Homo sapiens: one gene and its partner. The protein of the gene in region 2 purifies or fractionates together with the protein of the main gene of each other region. This does not show direct contact. Each region holds a gene or a part of one and is shown on either strand. Other genes may lie near its edges.

Region 1 (3,833 bases), on a different chromosome or scaffold from region 2:
TGAAACATGGATTGCTGGGCCGCACCCCTAGAGTTTCTGTTTCCTTGGTTGATTGAGGATAGGGCCTAAGACTTTGCATTTCTAACACGTTTCCAAGCAATGCTGATGCTGCTGGTACTGGAAACACATGTTAAGAATGACCATTTTAAAACATAGCCCCTTTAAATTGGGCCTGGACTGAGATGCTTACCCTTTGGAATGGAGTTTGTTCATCTATAAGTAATTGAGTTTGAAACAGATCTATTTCTAAGGTTATTAGTTGATATAGCTATATTTCTTCCTCTAATCACTCTTCTTTTGTGCCTCACTTTCCTGACCATGACTTTTTCTTCTATCATTTGTCTCTCACTCCTTGGAAGACATGCCACAACTGGGTATATGGCTACCATATTGCCTTGGTAAATCACTTAGGCTCTATAAAGTAAGTGTATTTACTAAATATTTATCTTCTAAGGTTATTGTGTGGCTTAAATGACATAGTGAATGTGAAAGAGCTTCATAAGAAGTGAAATTTTGTGTAAAATAGTTTTCTTAAAATTATTTTCTGCATCATCAGTATCTTTTTGGAGCAGTGTCTCTGACTGACGGTAAGTTTCATTGCTACTTGGGGGACTTGGTAACGATTGCATAGACATATGCAGGGACCATGGACATACTCAGGGACATCATGAAGAAGGTTCCTGCAGTGGATGGATGGTTAAGCTAGGGTCTGAGTGCCTTCCAAATGGAAATGTTTTGGAGGCTGATTGATAAATAGTTGTAGTAAGGACCAAAGGAGAGCCCAGTGCTGGAAAATTGCTTGAGCAGATGTTGAAATATTAGAGATTCAGCTTCCTCAGAGTAGAGAAATATAACTCTGTGACTTTTTTTTTTTCTAGCAGTTTAGGACAGATGTGATCTGGCCCACATCTATGTTTTTAAAGTTCTAGACCTATGCTGTCTGTAGTAACCACTAGTCACTTGTGGCTATTTAAATTAATGAAAATTAAACGAAATGAAAAATTCAGGACCTCAGTCACACTAGCCACAGTTCAAGTGCTTAATAGCCATTTCCATCACTGCAGCAATTTCTGTTGAGGAGTGTTGTTCTATAGTGAGATTGGCTCTGTTGTCTGATGGCAACACCACTGGGCTTCAGATGATAAGACAGGGACACATTTTTGAATGAAATGTACCACATCTCCCTTGGAGGGCTGGTATGAACTGATTGGGAATGCTCTATTCACTTGAACCCCATTTTACCACTTCTGTTTTGGAGGCTCATTCCATTTGAAAGCTGGGTCAGCATGGCAACTGGGTTATGCTGGCGGCAAAGCTTACCAGGCCATTATCAGGAGATGTCTGCTGTTTCTAGGGATGTTCCACTCATGGGATTCTTCCAGGGATCTGGTCCTTGAGAGAAGCAAATAGAAATGCTTGGGTGGAATTAGCACGGAAAGGTCCTCCTGAAGAGGACCATCAAAGGTCATCCTGAACTTCTCCACCTTGGATCCGTTCCACTGTTGAACCAAGCTTTGTCAATGAGAGGCAGGCAGCTGGCGCTTGTTCATCTCTCCAGTGTTTGCACATGCTCAGATACCATTCCACACTTCATCATCCTATTGTCTCCTTTGAAAGTGTTCTGTAAACTGTAATAAGGTTCATCTCCTTGCCCACCCTACATCCAGTCAGTCTTTAGGTCCTGCAGTTGACCTCCAAAATACTTCTTGCATACTTTCCCTTCCTTTGCATGTCTCTACAGCTAAACCAGTTTAAGGGCTAATTACCTGTTTCCTGGACTATTGTGATAGCCACTCACATAACAGGTCTTCCCACTTCTGTTTTCTTGCACCTCTTCTGACCTACTCTGTCCTTCCTTCTTTCCCTGCTTCCTCCCACCTTTCCTCCACCCTTCTCAGAATAGGCCCAGCAAGACAGGGATGATAGATATCTTGTCTTCCAAGCTTGCTTTGCTTTCTCTTTGTGAGGTAGGGCTCTGCACACGCCCTGTGGCCACGTGCCAGGGAGGAAGGAGGCATCTCACATTCAGCTGCTGCTTCTCAGCTGTGAGGGCTGCTCTGGGTGGTATGACCCAGCAATGTGACCCCTGACAGCAGGTGTGAAGCAGGCCTTTTCCTTTCTGACACGGGTGGTGTTCTGGAGGGCTCTGAGAACCAAGTGTTTTGTGAGCAAGCCTCCTCTATCTGCTGGTCTTGGGAAAAGTAGAGAATATGAAATCCTCTGGTAAGGCCCTGTTTCCTGAGGGACTGGCTCCTAAATATCACTGCAGTTATAGGTTGATTACTCATCCTGGTGATGTGGGAAAGGTTGGAACATAGAAGAAGGGCAGACAAAGAGATTAGGAAATGTGCTTTTTATGGAAATTACTGGATGCAGCACTCAGTGCATATCATTAAATTCATTGCAGAAAAACACATGTAAAACCAATCTAGCTTCTTGAAAAGAGAAATGGTCTAATGGTCTTTTTATCTAAAAGAGCAAAGAAAATGCCTTCTGAAATCACAGTAAGCTTCAATTAAGACACCTGGGAAAGTAATTTTAAAAGCATCACACAACCATTTATACAAACATTGAAGATAATGGCGGTGTCAGGTTTGTTTAAACTAGTAGGTTTGTTAAAGGACATAATCCTGTCAGGCTTATCTTCCCGTGGTATTGACTGGCCTGGCAGATCAAAAATGAGTGGTAAGTGGCATAAAAATGGTGAATAAATATACCTTAGCTGACTTTTAGAGTTGATCCTGTATGATAGTCATCAAAAAACTGAAGAATAGAGTCTAAAAAGTCTACTTTGAGATATATATTAGCTTAACCCTGAGTTGAGGCATTACATTTCCCCAAATTCTAACATTTCTTACTTTCAAATTTCTCCAAAATAAATTCCAGGAGTTTGGAGAAAAAAATTGAAATAAAGACAAATATTTACATTTTAATGACATTTATTAAGTGACTAAAATAACTTTATTAGTTTAGGAACAAAAAATGGGTTATGTGTAATTGTTTGTTCATAAAATAAAATACTGAATTTCTTGTATTAAATTTAGTAATTTATTTAGGCAGTAGTCACAATTATGCTAATTGAATTTACTTTGAATATTTTCAATTTCTCTTATAGAAGAGACATTAGGGAGCATGACATTTCTTATTTTGGACAGAATATAAATTAGGCAGAAATTTGGATACAGAATCACTCACTCCTTAAATATCTGTTGAGTGAATAACTCTGCTTTGTACAAGTCAATACTGAGGTGGAGAATTTGATGGGGTTACAATAAAAGGATATATAGTTCATCCATCTGATATTTGAGGGTCTGTCATGTGCCAGGAACTGGGCTAGGTGTGGGATATATATCCTTTGCTCCCCATGGAATTCATATTCTATAAAAGGAATGTAATGTATTAAGATGTTAGAAAACAAAAGACAAATGAACTGGGTTCGTTCTGCTCTAAGAAGAGAAGAAAGGATTCATAACTGTCTTTCAAGTATTTATTTTATTTTCACTTTGAAATGAGCTTAAATCACAGATATCATGACTTCTACAAGCTTAGAAGAGTTCTCTCCTGGGGAGGGTGGATAAATACAGATTAGGAGGATATGGAGGGCAAAGAGGCAACCAAAGAATTAATAGAAGTGTGGGGGTATCTTACTAGAAATCTGCTTAAATTGAGAAAATATGATGTAATGTCCTGCCTGATGGTGGGAAGAGGACCCTAATAGGCTAACTGTGGTGTGCCCTTTGGATATCTTTTTTTGATTTCAGTAATTATCTATGGAGCTTAATGGTTAAGACTCCAGAACTGGAAACCTGTATTCACACCCAAACTGTGCCACT
Region 2 (3,833 bases):
GACCACATAATTGGAAGTAAAACGCTCCTCAGCAAATGCAAAATAACTGAAATAATAACAAACAGCCTCTCAGACCTCAGTGCGGTCAAATTAGAACTCACAATTAAGAAACTCACTCAAAAACCACACAATTTCATGGAAATTGAATAACCTGCTCCTTATTGACTCCTGGATAGATAGTGAAATTAAGGCAGAAATAAAGAAGTTCTTTGAAACCAATGAGAACAAAGAGACAATGTTCCAGAATTTCTGAGATATAGCTAAAGCAGTATTAAGAGGGAAATTTCTAGCACTAAATGCCCACATTAGAAAGCTAGAAAGATCTCAAAACGACACCCTAACATCACAATTAAAAGAGCTAGAGCGGCAAGAGCAGACTAATCCAAAAGCTAGCAGAAGACAAGAAATAACTAAGAGAAGAATTGAAGGAGATAGAGACATGAAAAACCCTCCAAAAAAATCAACAAATCCAGGAGCTGGTGTTTTGAAAACATTAACAAAATAGATAAACTGCTAGCTAGACTAATAAGAAGAGAGAGAAGAATCAAATAGATGCAATAAAAAATAATAAAAGGGATATCACCACTGACCCCACAGAAATACAAACTACCATCAGAGAATACTATGAACACCTCTGAGCAAATAAACTAGAAAATCTAGAAGAAATGGACAAATTCCTGGACACATACACCCTCCCAAGACTAACCCAGGAAAAAGTTGAATCCCTGAATAGACCAATAACAAGTTCTGAAATTGAGGCAGTAATTAATAGCCTATCAACTAGAAAAAGCCCACAACCAGATGATTCACAGCCAAATTCTACCGGAAGTACAAAGAGAAGCTGGTACCATTCCTTCTGAAACTATTCCAAACAATTGAAAAGGAGGGACTCCTCCCTAACTCATTTTATGAAGCCAGCATCATCTTGATACCAAAACCAGGAAGAGAAACACACACAAAAAAGAAAACTTCAGGCCAATGTCCCTGATGAACATTGATGCAAAAATCCTCAATAAAATACTGCCAAACCGAACCCAGCAGCACATCAAAAAACTTAATCCATGTCATCAAGTCAGCTTCATCCCTGGGATGCAAGGCTGGTTCAACATACGTAAATCAATAAACATAATCCATCACATAAACAGATCCAAAGACAAAAACCAAAAACATATTTACAAGAAAAAAACAAAAAAGTGGGCAAAACATATCAACAGACACTTCTCAAAAGAAGACATTTACGTGGCCAACAAACGTATGAAAAGAAGCTCAACATCACTGATCATCAGAGAAATGCAAATAAAACCACGAGATACCATCTCACACCAGTCAGAATGATGATTATTAAAAAGTCAGGAAGAATAAATGCTGGGAGGCTGTGGAAAAATAGGAACACTTTGATTATCTCAGTAGATGCAGAAAAGGCCTTAGATAAAATTCAACACCCCTTCATTTTAAAAACTGTCAATAAGCTAGGTATTGATGGAACATATCTCAAAATAATAAGAGCTATTTATGACAAACCCACAGCCAATATTACATTGAATGGGCAAAAGCTGAAAGCATTCCCTTTGAAAACTGATACAAGACAAGGATGCCCTCTCTCACCACTCCTATTCAACGTAGTATTGGAAATTCTGGCTGGGGCAATCAGGCAAGAGGTATTCAGATAGGAAGAGAGGAAGTCAAGTTGTCTCTGTTTGCAGATGACATGATTTTATATTTAGAAAACCTCATCATCTGAACCTAAAAACTTCTTGAACTGATAAGCAACTTCAGCAAAGTCTCAAGATACAAAATCATTGTGCAAAAATCACAAGTATTCCTTTACACCAACAGTAGACAAGCAGAGAGTCAAATCATGAATGAACTCCCATTCACAGTCACTACAAAGAGAATAAAATACCTAGGAATACAGCTAACAAGGGATGTGAAGAACCTCTTCAAGGAGAACTACAAACCACTGATCAAGGAAATATGAGAGGACACAAACAAATGGAAAAACATTCAATCCTCATGAATAGGAAGAATCAGTATGGTGAAAATGGCCATACTACCCAAAGTAATTTATAGATTCAATGCTATTGCCATCAAACTACTGTTGACATTCTTCACAGAATTAGAAAAAACTATTTTAAATTTCATATGGAATCAAAGAAGAACCCCGTATAGCCAAGACAATCCTAAGCAAAAAGAACAAAGCTAGAGGCATCACGTTACCTGACTTTAAACATACTACAAGGTTACAGTAACCAAAACAGCCATATAGACCAATGAAGCAGAACAGAGTCCTCAGAAACCTACACATCTACAACCATCTGATCTTCGACAAACCTGACAAAGACAAGCAATGGGGAAAGGATCTCCTATTCAGTAAATGGTGCTGGGAAAACTGGCTAGCCATATGCAGAAAGCTGAAACTGGACCCCTTCCTTATACCTTATACAAGAATTAACTCAAGATGGATTAAAGACTTAAATGTAAAATTCCAAACCATAAAAACCCTAGAAGAAAACCCAGGCAAGACCATTCCTAGGACATAGGCATGGGCAAAGACTTCATGACAAAAATGCCAAGAGCTATTGTAACAAAAGCTAAAATTGACAAATGGGATCTAATTAAACTTAGAGAGCTTCTGCACAGCAAAAGAAACTATCATCAGAGTGAACAGGCAACCTACAGAATGGGAGAAAATTTTTGCAATCTACCGATCTGACAAAGGTCTAATATCCAGAATTTACAAGGAACTTAAACATATTTACAAGAAGAAAACCCATCAAAAAGTGGGCAAAGGATATGAACAGACACTTCTAAAAAGAAGTCGTTTATGCGGCCAAGAAACATGAAAAAAAGCTCAACATCACTGATCACCAGAGAAATGCAAATCAAAACCACAATGAGATACCACCTCACGCCAGTGAGAATGGTGATTATTAAAAAGTCAGGAAACAATAGATGCTGGCAAGGCTGTGGAGAAATAGGAACACTTTTATACTGTTGGTGGGAATGTAAATTAGTTCAACCATTGAGGTAGACAGTATGGCGATTCCTCAAGGATCTAGAACCAGAAATACCATTTGACCCAGCAATCCCATTACTGGGTATATACCCAAAGGCATATAAATCATCCTGCTCTAAAGACACATGCACACGTATGTTTATTGCAGCACTGTTTACAGTAGCAAAGACATGGAACTAACCCAAATGCCCGTCAGTGATAGACTGGATAAAGAAGTATAGTATTCCATGTGGAATACTATACAGTCATAAAAAGGAATGAGATCTGTCCTTTGCAGGGACATGGATGAAGCTGGAAGCCATCATCCTCAGCAAACTACACAGTAACAGAAAACCAAACGCCTCATGTTCTCACTCATAAGTGGGAGTTGAACATTGAGAACACAGAGAGGGGAACACCACACACCAGGGCCTTTTGGACGTTGGGGTGTGAGGGAAAGGAACTTAGAGGACAGGTCATGCAGCAAACCACATGGCACATGTATACTGATGTAATGAACCTGCACATTCTGCACATGTATCCTGTTTTTTTTTAAGAAGAAAAAAAATATTATGCATACGTATAATGTGGCCATTTTGCTGGCAACATTATGATTAGTTCAAAAGTAGAAATTAAATGTCATGGAGTTTTGCAAAAAGGACTATGATGTTTAACTGTCTTACCTTCCAAACAACTTAATATTCCCTACATTTTAATTCCTAGTGGGGACCAAGGAAACTGTTGTGATCTAGTGATTAGAAATGACAGTTGAAGTGACCCTGATGCAAACATTTACTCAATGAATTAACTGAGTTCAATACTAGGTGAAAAAAAAAAC

What was found.
Region 1: the proteins of WDR70 (region 2) and AMOTL1 purify together in Homo sapiens (affinity purification with mass spectrometry, with the first as the bait; one large-scale study listed by BioGRID). This does not show direct contact.

Annotation. Positions count from the first base shown.
Region 1 is NC_000011.10:94,774,624-94,778,456, forward strand, and holds part of AMOTL1 (angiomotin-like protein 1), read left to right. Parts: intron 1-3,833. UniProt on the Homo sapiens protein: Inhibits the Wnt/beta-catenin signaling pathway, probably by recruiting CTNNB1 to recycling endosomes and hence preventing its translocation to the nucleus.
Region 2 is NC_000005.10:37,746,009-37,749,841, forward strand, and holds part of WDR70 (WD repeat-containing protein 70), read left to right. Parts: intron 1-3,833.